Homo sapiens: one gene and its partners. The protein of the gene in region 1 purifies or fractionates together with the protein of each later gene. This does not show direct contact. Each region holds a gene or a part of one and is shown in the gene's direction. Other genes may lie near its edges.

Region 1 (4,470 bases):
ATCGCAAAAAAATCTCAAAATGTTTTTAAGCTTACAGATTTGCGTTGGGCCTCATTCAAAGCCATCCTAGGCCATTTACAGCCTGCAGGCCGTGGGTTGGACAAGCTTGGTTTAAGGCGTGTGTGTGCATCATTTTCGTGACTCTCCACTTTAAGGGGCTCTTTCTGTTAACTGACCAGTGACCGGCCAATCACAGGCCTGGCAGGTGGATGGCTTCCCCTGTAATTCTAGTGTTGCAGGCTCTGCACTGGCCACACAACCAGCGGGGCGGTGCGAGTGTAGTAACAGAGTAGCATTTAAGAAGGTACGCTCACGTCCCGTCCACATGGAGGCACTGGTCGGGACAGCAGCAGCAGGGCACCAGCCCTGGTGGTGCAGCTCCTCCCAGCAGGTGTCAGTCCCTCTTCAAGGGCTAAGCTCTAGGATTTGGAATTCTTGGTTTCCCAAGGCTGGTACGCACTAGTCCCACAAAAGGTTCTGTGAAAATAGGGTCCCTCAGGCCAGGCGCAGTGGCTCACGCCTGTAATCCCAGCACTTTGGGAGGCTGAGGCGGGTGGATCACTTGAGGTCAGGAGTTCAAGACCAGGCTGGCCAACGTGGTGAAACCCCATCTCTACAAAAATACAAAAATTAGCCGAGCATGATGGCGAGTGCCTGTAATCCCAGCTACTTGGGAGGCTGAGGTGGGAGAATCGCTTGAACCCAGGAGGCGGAAGTTGCAGTGAGCAGAGATTGCCCCATTGCACTCCAGCCTGGGCGACAGAGCGAGACTCCCTCTCAAAAAAAAGAAAATAGGGTTCCTCAAACAGGCAAACCTGTGAGATGCACGTTATATTCCTCTCTGGGAAGCCCCTGACACACGGTAAGTTACTAAAGACAGCCTGGCTGTGACAGTGGACCTGGTGCAAAACTAGCCCTCCTGCCACAGACAGATAGAAAAATATGAAACAACTCTATTCAGGCAGTGGACAGCAGGCAGCACGCACCTGCAGGCTCTGAGGAGGGAGTTCCAGCGCGAGCCCCGTGATCACCCCACTCCTTACCTGGGATGTTTCCCAAGCAGAACACAGTACTTCTGAGTGGAAGAGGCAGAGATCAACATCTCTGGCAGCTAGAGTGTGCCAGACAGGGCCCCAGAGAGAAGGGGAGCTGTGCAGAGCAGAGGTCCAGAAGTCCATGCAGGGACCCCCCAGTCGGACCACAGCTGTGGGCAGGGCAGTGGGCAGTGTGGGCCCCAGAGTAGAACGCCCCTGCTTGCCTTCCGTTCCACATGGACAGTTCCCTTCCTAACTTCCCTGTAAAAGGAGTCGAAGTCTGTCACCCTATAACGAGTGCCCCTGCCTGTGCCCATTGTAGGTTCACAGTCAAGTCCAGCTGCCTCTTCAGGAGCAGTGCCCGTGCTCTTGCCACCGCGGTTTGCCTGGCAGGCCCTGAGGCCGGGCAGCTCTGAACATGTGATTTCTACACACAGGGTGTTTGAAAGGGAGGGTCAGACCAACAGGGTTTGAAGCTGGACTGGCTCCCCTTGTTCTGGAGATGGCACCACTGCACTCCAGCCTGGGCGACAGAGCGAGACTCTGTCTCAAAAAAAAAAAAAATGCAAGAGAACTCTTCCTGCCAAAGGCAGGTCCCTCCAACTGGGCATGGCAGGGCCAAGATGGTAAAATGTAGCCTGCAACTCAGACCTCTGAATCCCACCTGCTCACGATTTGTGTCCCTGCACTTGGTATTGGGTGAAAGCAGCAGCTGGGACTTCCTTGTGGAGAGAGCCATAGAGGTAATTTACAGAAGAGTTGAGAGTTTTAAGTAGAGCGGCCTCTGTCTGCTGTGTCACAGTGATGGCGCAGAGTGCAGCCTTGGGAATGATGGCTGAGAACTGGTTTGTAGAAAGTGCAGCCCACCCTGCTTTGACACTTGCCTATGGACAAGTGTAGCAGGCAGGTGGCCAGAACTGCTTTGTCCTTCCTCTGCTGACCTGAATGTGGACTTGGCCCCGTCATAGTGACTGGCCCAGGGTTGGCTATGGACAGGTAACTTGTACTTGGGATGCAGCTGAAGGTGGCCAGGATGCACCAAGAGGCCATGGAAGGTCCCATGAGGTGCCAGGGAAGACCCACACCTGCTCGCCATCTTCTGAGTGGGAAGGAGGAGGGTGGCTAGTGGACCCCACCAGAGTCGAGGGCTGGGCTGTTTGGTTCTAAAGGCTTTTCTGCTGTGTGTGTCCCCAGATGAACGACAATCTCCTTGAGAGCTGGAGCGACCTCGACGAGCTGAAGGGAGCCAGGAGCCTGGAGACAGTGTACCTGGAGCGGAACCCCTTGCAGAAGGACCCCCAGTACCGGCGGAAGGTCATGCTCGCCCTCCCCTCCGTGCGGCAGATCGATGCCACGTTCGTCAGGTTCTGAGTCCTTCTTGGCTCCTCATGTGGTCCCTCTCCTCGGAAGAACTGCCCAGCCACGGGTTTTTAACCCACCTGTTGCTCCTGAGGTCGTCACTATATCAACAGTCACAAACCCAATGGCAATAAAGGCACTGACGATAGCTGGCGCGCGCGACGTCACACACCATTTTCAGATGCCGTTGCAATTAAATCTTGCCACACTGTCCTCCTGGGTGATTGTTGACAGTTATTGTAGCCACAGAGAGAACATAAGACACGTTGCGTTCATTCGCTAGAAATCCCTGTTTCCTTCTCTCAGAAGGCAGTCACAGTCCCTACCTGAGTCGTGTGAAACACAGGGCCTGAGAGTGCTTTACAGGCATTCACGTGCTGTCCGAGTGGCATTCGGGGGCTGGCCTAGCTGGCCCTAGTCCTGGTGTGCAGGGTTCAGGCAGTCTTGACCTGCAACAACCGAGGTTTTTTAGTCTTTTAACCCAGCCATTTTCAATTTTTTAAAAATTAGGTAAGTTAAAAAAGCTGGGTAAAAGCTGACTCAGCCCTGTGTGCTTGTGTTCCTTAGAGCTCTCCTTCAAAGAGCGCCGGGCAGGGCTGACTGTTTTCACGTGTGCCCGTCAGTTCTCGCCACATCCCTTGCCTGTGGGTGAAAGCTCAGGTGTGGGGAGGGTGTCCTGTGTCCCACACGGTGCTGTGCTGCTGCCAGAATACGAGTCCCATTGAGCCTCTCCAAAGACGGCCTCCAAGGATCTGAACTCTTGGCCACTGGTATAGTGGCCTCCTGTTCTCACCCCATTGTTATTTTGGCTTTTTTAATATAAAATGTACATTGACAGACACCCGAAGTCTGGATTTAATGCTACCAGGGCATCGTCACCTCCCAGGGTCTCAGATTTCTCCTCCTGCAGAATGAGGGCCACATCATGTGGTCACCAAGGTCCCTTCTGCCTCCGGGACTCTAGACTCTAGAACCGTCTACTTGAGGAACCAGGACTCTAGAACCGTACTGTCCAATGTGGGCGAGGCTGCAGTGAGCCATGATTGTACCCACTCCAGCCTGGGTGACAGAGGGAGACCCTGTCTCAAGTTTTAAAAGGCTCCAAATTAATACCCAGCCATCTGTTCTTTAACAGACATTTTTACAAACATACAAAAAATGTGGAAGTGATGAGGAAAGGTATGCTAAATCCAGCACAATCCTAATCAAAATGCCATTTGATTTTTTTTTTTTTTAAGGAGTCATTCTCTGTCACCCAGGCTGGAGTGCAATGGCGCAATCTCAGCTCACTGCAGCCACCACCTCCCAGGTTCAAGCGATTCTCCTGCCTCACCCTCCCTAGTAGCTGGGATTACAGGCACCCGCCACCACACCCAGCTGATTTTTGTATTTTTAGTAGAGATGGGGTTTTGCCATGTTGCCGGGCTGGTCCCAAACTCCTGACCTCAGGTGATTCGCCCACCTCAGCCTCCCAAAATGCCGGAATTACAGGGGTGAGCCACCGCACCCAGCCACCATTTGATTTTTTGAGACACATTAAATTCTAAAATTTAATTTTTTTTCCTTTTTTTTCTGAGACAGAGTCTCGCTCTGTCGCTAGGCTGGAGTGCAGTGGCGCGATCTGTGCTCACTGCAAACTCCGCGTCCCGGGCTCAAGCGATTCTCCCGCCTCAGCCTCCTGAGTAGGTAGGACTACAGGCACATGCCACCACACCCAGCTAATTTTTATATTTTTAGAAGAGACGGGGTTTCACCATGTTGGCCAGGATGGTCTTGATCTCTTGACCTCATGATCCACCTGCCTCTGCCTCCCAAAGTGCTGGGATTACAGGAGTGAGCCACCGTGCCCGGCTTTTTCTTTTTCCTTTTTTGGCGAACAGGGTCTTGCTATATTGCCCAGGCAAGTCTCAAACTCCTAGGCTCAAGCTGTCCTCCCACCTCTGCCTTCCTAAAAGCTGGGATTATAGGCATGAGCTACCGTGCCCGACAAATTCTAAAATGTATATGGAAGAAAAAAGTCAACATTGTGATTCAATTCATTTTGAAAAAGAGCTGGGAGAGACGCTTTCCTACCAGA
Region 2 (3,576 bases), on another chromosome or scaffold:
AAAATAGATGAACCAAGCACTCCTTACCATAGGTAATGTTACGTAGACGTCATTCCTCTTGTGACTTACTTCCATTTTGCATTTCATATGAACGTCTGGATAACAGCCTATTTGAATTTGTTTTATTGTAGATTTGTTACTGGAGCACTAGTGAAGTCAGTAACCTAACTGCAATTTGTTTAGTAATGGTTTAAGTGATGTGTAAGTTTAAAATTAAGAAAGCCATTTTGTACATTATAATGGTAGTAGTAAATGTTTATTTGTTGCACCTCAGTGGTTGCTAGCTACTAATGGTGCATATATTAGTTTTAACTTCCATGAAAGGAAGATGAGATATGGGCTTGTTTGCTTCCCAAGTAGAAATCTGGGGTTTACTCAGTCTCTTTGCAGAGAAGCATAACTGCATGGATGGTAACCCACTGAAAGATAGGTGTCATTATTACTGTTTATGTCTTCATTTTTTAACTTAATGTAATATTGTTGTTCAGATCATTACATGTAATTTTTGACAATTTCAAGTCTCAGAATTTCCTAAATGAATTGTGAAATTACATTACGCAGCAGTAACCAGTATGAAGACAAAAATAATGCAAGAAGCATTATGAGAAGATGAGGATTCTAAATAGGTATAGATACCTAATTAAGATAATACCTTGGGCCGAGCACTGTGGCTCACGCCTGTAATCCCAGCACCTTGGGAGGCCAAAGTGGGCGGATCACCTGAGGTGAAAGACCAGCCCGGCCAACGTGGTGAAACCCCATCTCTACTAAAAAAAAAAAAAAATACAAAAATTAGCCAGGCATGGTGGCGGGCACCTGTAATCCCAGCTACTCGGGAGGCTGAGGCAGGAGAATTGCTTGAACCCGGGAGACGGAGGTTGCTGTAAGCCAAGATCACACCATTGCACTCCAGCCTGGGCGACAAGAGCAAAACTCTGTCTCAAAAAAAAAAAAAAAAGATAATACCTTGGCTGGGCATGGTGACTCTTGCCTGTACTCCCAGCACTTTGAGATTACAGAGGCAGAGGTGGGAGTATTGCTTCAGGCCAGGAGATCAAAACCAGCCTAAGCAACATAGTAAGACTCTTTCTACAAAAAAAAAAAAAAAAAAAAAAAAAAAAAATAGTTATGCCCTACCTACCTTGTATTGAAAAAAATAAAAGATTTCCAAGATTAAAATATTTTGTCATTGAATTAAGACAGCATAAATCCAAAAGTTACCATTAAAATAGAGGTAACTGCTGTTTCCATTTGTTCTGTAGTGAAAGAAGAGTTAAGAACTACTGTATTTTAAGTCAGTGGGTGAAAACTTTGGAAGATAATTTGAAATAACCTGTTACTAACAAAAACAGTAAAAATAAAAAACTTGAAGATATTAAAGACTGATGAGCATAAAAAGAAATAATGAAATAGGTACAGATGCTGAAACTCAATACTGATGAAATTTGAGTGAAGAAATACACAGTTTTTTGTGGTATATATGTATGTACCATGGAATATATATAAAAAGGAACAAAATAATGGCATTCACAGCAACCTGGATGGAGTTGGAGACCATTACTCTAAGTGAAGTAACCCAGGAATGGAAAACCAGACCTTGTATGTTCTCACTTATAAGCGGGAGCTAAGCAAAGGCATAAGAATGATACAGTGGACTTTGGGGATGGGAGGGGTGAGAGGGGGTTGAGGGATAAAAGACTACACATTGGGTGCCGTGTACACTGCTCGGGTGATGGGTGCACCAAAATCTCAGCAATTACCACTGAAGAACTTACCTGTGTAACCAAACACCACTTGTTTCCCAAAAACCTATTGAAGTAAAAATAAATTGAGGGGAAGAAAAACAATAAAATTACAATTAGTTAAAAAAAAATACGCATGCTAAAAAGAGGTTTATATTCTTATTTTTCTCCTAAATTGCAGGTATATACTTTAAAAATCTTAAAAAAAAAAAAAGATACAAGATCTGGCTATGTTGCCCAGTGCAGTGGCTATTAACAGGCACAGTTATAGCACACTACAGCCTGGAACTCCCGACTCAAGTGATCCTCCCTCCTCCGCCTCCCAGGTAGCTGACTATGGGCACACATCACCGTGCCCAACTTCTAAAATGTATATTAAAACCTTTATTGTACCAGAATCCAAAATCAGAGTGTACTTTCTTTTTACTAAATGTAGTGGCCATCCGTCACTCACTTGTGTTAGTTGGGGATAAGTATCCTAGGAGAATTAAGATCAGACATGATTTAAAAAAATAGTTGAGGCCAGGTGCAGTGGCTCAACGCCTGTAATCTCAGCACTTTGGGAGCCTGAAGCAGGAGGATCGCTTAGCCTCCCAAAGAATGCTGTTTTTTATTTTTTATTTTTTATTTTTTTGAGACAGAGTCTCACTCTGTCACCCGGGCTGGAGAGCAGTGGCACGATCTCAGCTCACTGCAAGCTCCATGTCTCAGGTTCAAGAGATTCTCGTGCCTCAGCCTCCCAAGTAGCTGGGATTACAGGCACCCACTACCACGCCTGGCTAGTTTTTGTATTTTTAGTATTGACAGGGTTTCACCGTGTTGGCCAAGCTGATCTCAAACTCCTGACCTCAAGTGATCCACCCACCTCAGCCTCCCAAAGTGTGGGATTACAGGCATGAGCCACCACGCCCTTCCCCAAAGAACTCTTGCCCAGGAGTTCAAGACCAACCTGGGCAACAGAGTGAGACTCTTATCTCCACAAAAAAAATTAAAACAAATTAGACTAAGCACAGCAGCTCACGCCTGTAATCCCAGCACTTTGGGAGCCTGAGGCGGGTGGATCACCTAAGGTCAGGAGTTCAAGACCAGCCTAGCCAACATGGTGAAACCCCGTCTCTACTGAAAATACATAAAAATTCCCAGATGTGGTGGTGGGCGCCTATAACCCCAGCTACTCGGGAGGCTGAGGCAGGAGAATCACTTGAACCTGGGAGGCAGAGGTTGCAGTGAGCTGAGATCGCGCCATTGCACTCCAGCCTGGGCAACCAGAGCGAAACTCTGTCTCAAATAAAAAAAGTAAAATTATCCAGAGGTGGTGGTGTGTACTTGTAGTCCCAGCTAGCTAGGAGGCTGAGGCAGGAGGACTGTCTGAGCCCTGGAGGTTGTAGCTGCAATTAGCCATGATCACGTCATTGCACTCCAGCCTGGATGACAGAGGGAGACCTTATCTCTAAAGAAAAAGAAAAAAAATTTCAGAATAGCTATGGCCATTATTTTTTGACTGTTTATAAATATAATTTGAATGGTAGATATTTGCCATTCAAATAACCAGAAAAGTTATTTGGTCCCTAAGTAATTGAGGCTATGTGCATGCAGAGATAACCTGTGTCCTGCTTTTATCAGTTCACTGCTCAGTTTTATCATTTCTTTCCATGACTTTCTTTTTTCTTTTTGAGAGTTTCATTTGGCCAGCCATGGTAGCTCATCCTTGTAATCCCAGCACTTTAGGAGGCTGAGGTGGGAGGATTGCTTGAGCTCAGGAATTGGAGATGAGCCTGGGCAACATAGAGAGACCCCGTCTCTACAAAAAATAAAAAGAATTAAGCCAGGAATG
Region 3 (3,576 bases), on another chromosome or scaffold:
CCTTTTATCCTTCCTTTTTCCTCTGCTCCTTCCTCTCCTTCCTTTTTTCACTAATCCTTCTCCTCCTCCCTTCCTCTCCACCACTCCTTCCATCTCCTTTATTTCCCCCTCCTCTCTCACCTCCCCTCTCCTCTCTCACCTCCCCCATCCTCTCTCACCTCCCCCCTCCTCTCTCACCTACCCCCTCCTCTCACCTCCCCGCTCCTCTCTCACCTCCCCTCTCTTCTCTCACCTCCCTCTTCCTCTCTCACCTCCCCCCTCCTCTCTCACCTTCCCCCTCCTCTCTTTCCTCCCCACTCCTCTCTCACCTGGGTTTTCTTTCCCCACCTTCCATCCCCCTCCGATCTCCCTGCCACTTTTCATTTTTTCAGCCCTTCCTCCCCTTCTCTTTCAAGCCCCCCTGCCCCCTGCCCCCCACCCCCCGCCTCGCTCCTGCCTCCTGGTGCCCGTCCCTCAACCCCCCACCCCTCTGCTCTGTGCCCTGGGGGCCCTGTCCCCCTTACAGCTGGGGGGCAGGCTCTGCCTCCTGCCCGTCCTTGTGCCGCTGCTTTGGGGACCCTTTGGTGGGTGCGGGGAGGTGGGTCAGGTTCCATCTGGGCCCACCTCTGACCCTGTGCCCCTCTCTCCCCAGAAGGTGGAAGAGGTGGGTGCCTGGGCCCTGGGTGGGGGAAGGGCTAGCCCCTCCCCCATTTCTCCCAGCCCCTCCCCTCTCCCCATGGCCACTCCCTCCCCTTCACTCCCTGTGAGGGGTGGGTGGGGACATCACCCTCCCAGTTGAAGAGCTAAGTATGGAAATCCTCCCCACCCCATAACACCCCCTCTGTTGCCATCCCCCTGCCTCAGGGAAGGGAGGGGGTCAGTCCTATGCTCCATCCTGGGTTCCCCATCCCTTCCCCCATCAAATTTCAGTATCCCCCCTCCCCCAAGACCCCCCACTACCCCAGTGCCCCTAAAATCCCACCACTCCTCTGACTCTCTCCTCTCTTCTGTTGCATGTTTGATCCCTGTCCTGGTCACCCTTGCCCCGGTCCTGGTCTCTCCCTGTCTCTGTCCCTGTCCTGGTCTCTCCCCGTCTCTGTCCCTGTCCTCGTCTCTCCCCAATTTCTGTCCCTGCCCTGGCCTCTCCCCACCTCTGTCCCTGCCCTGGTCTCTCCCCGTCTCTGTCCCTGTCCTGGTTTCTCTTCGTCTCTGTTCTTGTCTTGGTCTCTCCTTGTCTCTGTCCCCGGCATCTGCCTGACTCTGTCCTTGGCCTCGGGGTCCAGGCTATCAGGGCGTCTGGGGCGCTCAGAGAGCCTGCGGGTGAGTGACCGCCGCCGGCCTTCCCGGGGCAGCCTCGGGGCTAAGGGCCGGGGTGGGGGCCGCTCCCGGAGCGACGTGGACATGGACCCCAGTTCCGCCACGGCAGTGCTTGGCCCTGCCCGACGAGCCACGTATGTCAACCCTCTCCCTTCCCCCATCCACTAAGGCAGCCTGGAGAATCAGGGAGGGATTGTTGTCAGAGTCACAGAGGAATGGGCGTTGGAGACCGAGGTCATTGAGGCCAACTGTGGTCACAGACCTTGGAGGAGGAGGGGGTAGAATGCTTCTAGAGATCTGGGAACTCTAGTGTGGTCCGATCTAGAGACCTGGTCTGCTGCACGGGCCACCCTGCGGGCATCGAATGCCAAGGCCACTGACCGGGGTTGAACGCTCTAAGAGGCTGAAGGCTGCTTCTTGGGATGGCCCAAGCTGGGGCCCTAACAAGGCCTCTGTCCACAGCCCCGAGCCTGGAGATGAGGGGGAGCCGGGGCGGTCGGGACTGGAGCTTGAACCAGAAGAGCCTCCCGGCTGGCGGGAACTCGTCCCCCCAGACACCCTGCACAGCCTGCCCAAGAGCCAGGTGAAGCGGCAGGAGGTCATCAGCGGTGAGTACTGCCCCCATCACCCCACTGTGGCCAAGGACACAGTCCAGCTCTGGCAAAGGCAAAGACAGGCGCAGAGAGATGTTCATCTTGGTGTCATTTACCATCGGGAGAACTTGAAGGCAGCTTCAAATTCCCTCTTGTTCCAAGTTCAGATTGTTTCAACACAGAGCATTTTGATGGAATGTGAATGCCACTGTGGAAGGGACATTTCCAAACATTTCTAGTAGTGCAATACAGTGCTGATGTTGAGAACACTGCATTTCTGGTGCAAGCTTTTATTTCCTTGCTTGTGAAATGTGGGCATTAATAGTTCCTACCTCAGATATTGTCATGAAGATGAGATGATTTGTGTGAAATGTTTAGCATAGTGCTGGGCACAGAGGAAGAGCATTTTATTTTATTTATTTTTTTAAATTTTTATTTGAGGCAGAGTCTCAGTTGGTCTCTCAGGCTGGAGTGCAGTGGCACAATCACGGCTCACTGCAGCCTTACCCTCCCAGGCTCAACTGATCCTCCCACCTCAGCCTCCCGAGTAGCTGAACAGGCATGTACCACCATGCCTGGCTAATTTTTGTATTCTTTGTAGAGATGGGGTTTCGCCATGTTGGCCAGGCTGGTCTCGAACCCTTGGGCTCAAGTGATCCTCCTACCTCAGCCTCCCAAAGTCTTGGGATTACAAGTGTGAGCCACCAGGCCCAGTCAAGGAAGAGCATTTTAATGAGATTGTTGTTACTAGTTTGATCTTAATTGCTTAGGGGAGAAAAGATCCCCACAGGGGAAAGTTTGGGAGAATGATCAGTATATTAGCAGTGCTTGCTTCTGCGTGGAGAGATGATGAGTGTATCATTTTTGTCTTTTTCCTTTTTTCCTTTGCTAATTGTGTGGTGGCTAGGGAGGCTGGTGGCAAAAAGAGAAAGCTTTTTTTTTTTTTTTTTTTTTAAGACAGAGTTTTGCTCTTGTTGCCCAGGCTGGAGTGCAATGGCACAATCTCGGCTCACCACAACCTACGCCTCCCAGGTTCAAGTGATTCTCCTGCCTCAGCCTCCTGAGTAGCTGGGATTACAGGCATGTGCCACCACGCCCGGCTAATTTTGTATTTTTAGTAGAGACGGGGTTTCTCCATGTTGGTCAGGCTGGTCTCGAACGCCCGCCTCAGCCTCCCAAAGTGCTGGGATTACAGGCGTGAGCCACTGTGCCTAGCCCAAGAGAAAGGTTTGGGACTTGACTGAAAGCTTATTTACAGATTACTTCATAGTGAAAAAGATACTTATTCAAAAATTTTAGGGGAGTAGTTGAGTACTTTTTGGGTCACAGATCCTTCTAAGGACATGATAAAAAAAAAAAAAAACATGAGCCATGTGCTACCCATTAGGACTTTCTGGAAGATGGAAATGTGCTTTATTTGTACTGCTCACCATGGGGACCATCGGCCACCTATGGCTGGTGAGCACTTGAAATGCACTAGGCCAGGCACAGTGGCTCATGCCTGTGATCCCAGCACTTTGGGAAGCCGAGGTGGGCAGATCACTTGAGGTCAGGAGTTCGAGACTAGCCTGGCCAACATGGTGAAACCCCATCTCTACTAAACATACAAAAATTAGCCAAGCATAGTGGCGCATGCCTGTAATCCCAGATACTCGAGAGAGTAAGCCAGGAGAATTGCTTGAACCCA
Region 4 (4,049 bases), on another chromosome or scaffold:
TCCTACATGAGCTGCTCTGTGTGGCTGGAGGGAACAGAGCTGCAGCCTTCCTCAGCCTGCCCTCCCGGGGACTGGCATGGCCCCTACCCCATCAGGCCTATGTAGTTGGGAGCTGAAGGCAGAGCTGACCTCTCCTCTTTGTTCCCTTTCCTCAGGAGCCCTAATAGCCCATATGGGGACGTGATTGGCCTCCAGGTGGACTACTGGCTGGGCCACCCCGGGGAGCGGAGGAGGGAAGGCGACAAGAGGGACGCCAGCTCGAAGAACACCCTCAAGAGTGTCTTCCGCTCAGTGCAGGTGTCCCGCCTGCCCCATAGTGGGGAGGCCCAGCTTTCTGGCACCATGGCCATGACTGTGGTCACCAAAGAAAAGAACAAGAAAGGTAAGTACCCCCAAGGCCGGGGAAGACCATGGGCCACCAGGCCTCCCGTCTCGTCTCTCAGGGCCTGGGAATAAATCTGCTTTTGGGATATTTGGGATGAAGAAGCATCCCATGGTCTGGCATGGGGTGCAGAGGGGGCAGTCCCACCTCCCCTCGAGGGACAAGGCCATTCCTTCTGTCATGCAGGAAACCGAGGCTGCAGAGAGTCGCTTGGTCACTCTCTGCTGAGCTCCAGTACTTTAGGGGCTGAGGCAGCTGCCACTGTGTAATGAAGGGGGCCTTTCTGGCCACTGCTGTCCGGGATGGACTGCAGACAGGGAGAGGCCTCTCTATATCACAGCTCCAGGTCCCTGTGACGCAGGAGTAGAGAACTTGCACCCAGCCCTGGAGGCCTCTCCAAAGAGGCCTCATGAGCAAAAGGACGTGGTTGTGTTTTCAGGATTAAGGGGCATACAGTCCATTCTGGATAGCAGGGGTAGCTTAAGGAGCTGGAGGGGAGTTGGAGCTGGCCCGGCTCCTGTGCGTGGGAGTGAGGCAGGAACCCCCATGGCTGGGCCAGTGCTGCGGCAGCGCCTGCCACCGTTGGTGCCAGCTGGGGACCCGCAACTGGTAGTGCACCTGCAGCACTGGCATGACCCCAACCCCGCCTCCTTTGGGTGCTGCAAAGCAGCTGTGCCTATTTCTGTGTGTGACTCCCCTCTGCAGAGTTCCCCTGGGGGGTCAGGCATGGGGCTGTGCCAGGCCCACAGCCAAAACCCACGGCCTGCAGCACAGAAACTTGCAAGGGGAAGCTGCCTGCTCAGCAGTGACCTCCCTGCCCTTGCTTCCTTTCTGGAGTGGGAGTGGAACAGGGAGCACTCCCCGGCATCCCCAGGACAGCGTGAGGACAAACTCATGCTGCACTGGCTCCTGCATAGAGCATGCGCCTGATAGGGAGGCAGGCCCCTGCCCCACAGGCTGCCTAGAACGTTCCAGCTGGAAAGGACTTCAGAGACCATCTGGACCAAGGTCTTCACTGAACAGGCGAAGATATCGAGCCCCAGGGGGAGAAGTGGGACCTTAGCCAAAGTCACCAGCCCAGTGCTGGGACTGAGTCAGGAACCTGAAGATCCTGACCCACAGCCCAGTGCCAGGGAGGAGGGGTTGGTTTGCAGATCACCTCCCCTCGCCACAGGAAGAAGGGGACAGTCGGCTGGGGAGGAGAGGGGTGGCGGCTTCCCCAGGGGCTGGGACACAGGTGGCCTTGCTTGCTTTCCAGTTCCCACCATCTTCCTGAGCAAGAAACCCCGAGAAAAGGAGGTGGATTCTAAGAGCCAGGTCATTGAAGGCATCAGCCGCCTCATCTGCTCAGCCAAGCAGCAGCAGACTATGCTGAGAGGTGCGAGGGCAGGCAGGGCCGGGAGGAGGGCAAGAAAGGGACTGGAGAGGGAGGCAGGCAATGGCCTTTCCCAAGGGGCCCTGGGGAGATGGCCTGAGCAGTCTGGTCACCCCTCCTCTCCTGTCACCCCTAGTGTCCATCGATGGGGTCGAGTGGAGTGACATCAAGTTCTTCCAGCTGGCAGCCCAGTGGCCCACCCATGTCAAGCACTTTCCAGTGGGACTCTTCAGTGGCAGCAAGGCCACCTGAGGCCCTGTCTCCCAGCCACTTTCCCTCCTGGCACTGCCACCAGCCTCACCGCCTGCGGGCAGGGGGAGGCCAGCAGGCCCGGGCCCAGCACCCCTTCCCTGGCACCAGGGTCTGCCTCTCACTCGCCCAGGTCCCGAAGGACACTGCCACAGGGACGCCTTCCCTCCCCTCCCCTCCAGCCCACCCCTGCACAGCCCCTCCTCCTTCCCGCTTTTCCCCTTCTCCCTCCTGCTCCAGGCCCAAGGCGTGTTGGTTTTGCCTTCTGGTGCCCATAGTCCCCTGGACTGAGTCCCCCAGGCCTTCCTTCACCCGACTTCCAAACTCTTCCTTGTGGTATCAGTTTCCTTCTCGGAAATGAGAAAGCTGGAATCCTGGTCCCCAGCAGGAGAGCCTAGTCCTCCCCCAGCCCCTCCAGCCACCAGGGTGTCCTCTAGGATGCAGCTGCCAGATCCACTCACTCTGCTGCCTCCAGCAGGACCCAAGGCCACTTTCAACTCTTATGGGGTTCTCCACCTGCCCCAGAGCTTCTCAAGGGAGGGTAAGGGGGCACCCTGAGCCCACAGGACCCCTACTTCACAGCTCACAGGGGCAGGAGGCAGCTCCCCTGCCTCCAGGACCCTGTTGCTATGGTGACACAGCGTTTCTAGGACAGAGGGGCCTCCCAGTCTCCCCCCACCACCCGTGCACGACTTCCTCACCACCCCCAGGTTCCCTGCAGATGTCGTGTGTGTCCTGAGTGTTTCTTTGGTTCTTTGCACGCCAAGTCTCTTGGTTGTACCATGTGACACACCCTGTGCACTGGTCGCTGTCTTCGTGGCTTCCACCCTTGTTAATGATGCTCCTGCCTCTGCCTCCCAGCCCCTCACCCAGCACAGCTCTGCCTGGACTTGGAGAGATGGGAGGCAGACCCCCACCACCATACATGCTGTCTGTGGCCCCTCAGACATTCTGTTTCATCTCCCATTCATCTCCCTCCTCCCACCGTGTCAGTTTTTCTGCCTTTCCCTGCTCTGTTCTTCCCCCTCCTTAGGCCCCAGCCTGGGCCCAGACCCATCCTCCCAGCCAGGTTTCCCTCCAGCAGGCTCCTTCCCTCCCTGTCACCTCCCTCTCACCAACCCGGGGTCTGAGCCCCTCATTCCTGACCGTCCGTGTTCTCAGGAGTGGTTGAGGACACAGGGCCCCAGCCCAGCCCTCTGCACCCCCCAGCCCGGCCATCTGCGCCCCACAGCCCCTTTGGAGCTTTTCTCTTGTCCTCTCACTCCTTCCCAGAAGTTTTTGCACAGAACTTCATTTTGAAAGTGTTTTTCTCATTCTCCATACCTCCCCCAAGCTCTCCTCCAGCCCTTCCCAGGGCTCAGCCCTGCTGTCCTGAGCGTCTCCTGGGCCAGAGAGAGGAGATGGGGGTGGGAGGGACTGAGTTGATGTTGGGTTTTTCATTCAATAAATTGGTGATTTCTTACCGACTGCCTTGGGCTTCTATGCCCCCTCACTGTGCCACAGGAGCTGCCCAACCCCTTTTCCACAGTGCAGCCCAACTCCAGTGAAAATCCACCAGGAACGTAGGTGGAAAGAAGCGTACTCCCATGTTCTCAATCATGGAAACAGGCATGAAGGTGTCTCACCTGGCATGAGGCAGGCAGAGGTCGGAAACAGGAAAGATGTCATTTCCACACCAAAAGCCCGTTTTTCCCCAGGACCCACCATCCCCAAATCCACCTCCCAAGGCAGTGACGTGTTGAGTGTGGCTTCCCCATCTTCTGATCAAAGGTCAGAACTTAGCTTCTCTCCCCTGCTCCAGGTTGGTGAAGTCCGAGCCAGTGGGGTCTTTGCCTCTGCAGGTGGAGGGAATAGGGCTGAGGGACATCTGTGGAGTTCCTTTTCCTGCCCGCCCTTGACTTAGAGATGGAAAGCAGTGGTAGCCACTGTCCCCTGGGTGCCCGGTTTTTCCACTAGCTTCCAAGACAGGCCTGCACACACGAAGAAGTGTGTGCCTTCCCCATGAAGAAGTGCCCAGAGGTGGCCAGGCACAGTGGCTCACGC

What was found. Proteins that work in one complex are often made in the same cells at the same time.
Region 2: the proteins of PPP1R7 (region 1) and PPP1R2 fractionate together in Homo sapiens (co-fractionation; one large-scale study listed by BioGRID). This does not show direct contact.
Region 3: the proteins of PPP1R7 (region 1) and ARHGEF1 fractionate together in Homo sapiens (co-fractionation; one large-scale study listed by BioGRID). This does not show direct contact.
Region 4: the proteins of PPP1R7 (region 1) and PACS1 purify together in Homo sapiens (affinity purification with mass spectrometry; one large-scale study listed by BioGRID and IntAct). This does not show direct contact.

What each region holds. Positions count from the first base shown.
Region 1 is NC_000002.12:241,180,419-241,184,888, forward strand, and holds the end of PPP1R7 (protein phosphatase 1 regulatory subunit 7), read left to right. Parts: intron 1-2,228; coding exon 2,229-2,405; 3' UTR 2,406-3,234; downstream 3,235-4,470. UniProt on the Homo sapiens protein: Regulatory subunit of protein phosphatase 1.
Region 2 is NC_000003.12:195,526,250-195,529,825, reverse strand, and holds part of PPP1R2 (protein phosphatase inhibitor 2), read left to right. Parts: coding exon 1-32; intron 33-1,923; coding exon of another isoform or gene 1,924-2,068; intron 2,069-3,576. UniProt on the Homo sapiens protein: Inhibitor of protein-phosphatase 1.
Region 3 is NC_000019.10:41,896,684-41,900,259, forward strand, and holds part of ARHGEF1 (rho guanine nucleotide exchange factor 1), read left to right. Parts: intron 1-631; coding exon of another isoform or gene 632-643; intron 644-1,262; coding exon of another isoform or gene 1,263-1,430; intron 1,431-1,758; coding exon 1,759-1,904; intron 1,905-3,576. UniProt on the Homo sapiens protein: Seems to play a role in the regulation of RhoA GTPase by guanine nucleotide-binding alpha-12 (GNA12) and alpha-13 (GNA13) subunits. Acts as a GTPase-activating protein (GAP) for GNA12 and GNA13, and as guanine nucleotide exchange factor (GEF) for RhoA GTPase.
Region 4 is NC_000011.10:66,241,272-66,245,320, forward strand, and holds the end of PACS1 (phosphofurin acidic cluster sorting protein 1), read left to right. Parts: intron 1-155; coding exon 156-382; intron 383-1,640; coding exon 1,641-1,760; intron 1,761-1,893; coding exon 1,894-2,009; 3' UTR 2,010-3,473; downstream 3,474-4,049. Other genes in the region: uncharacterized protein LOC124902694, read right to left, coding at 3,778-3,841. UniProt on the Homo sapiens protein: Coat protein that is involved in the localization of trans-Golgi network (TGN) membrane proteins that contain acidic cluster sorting motifs.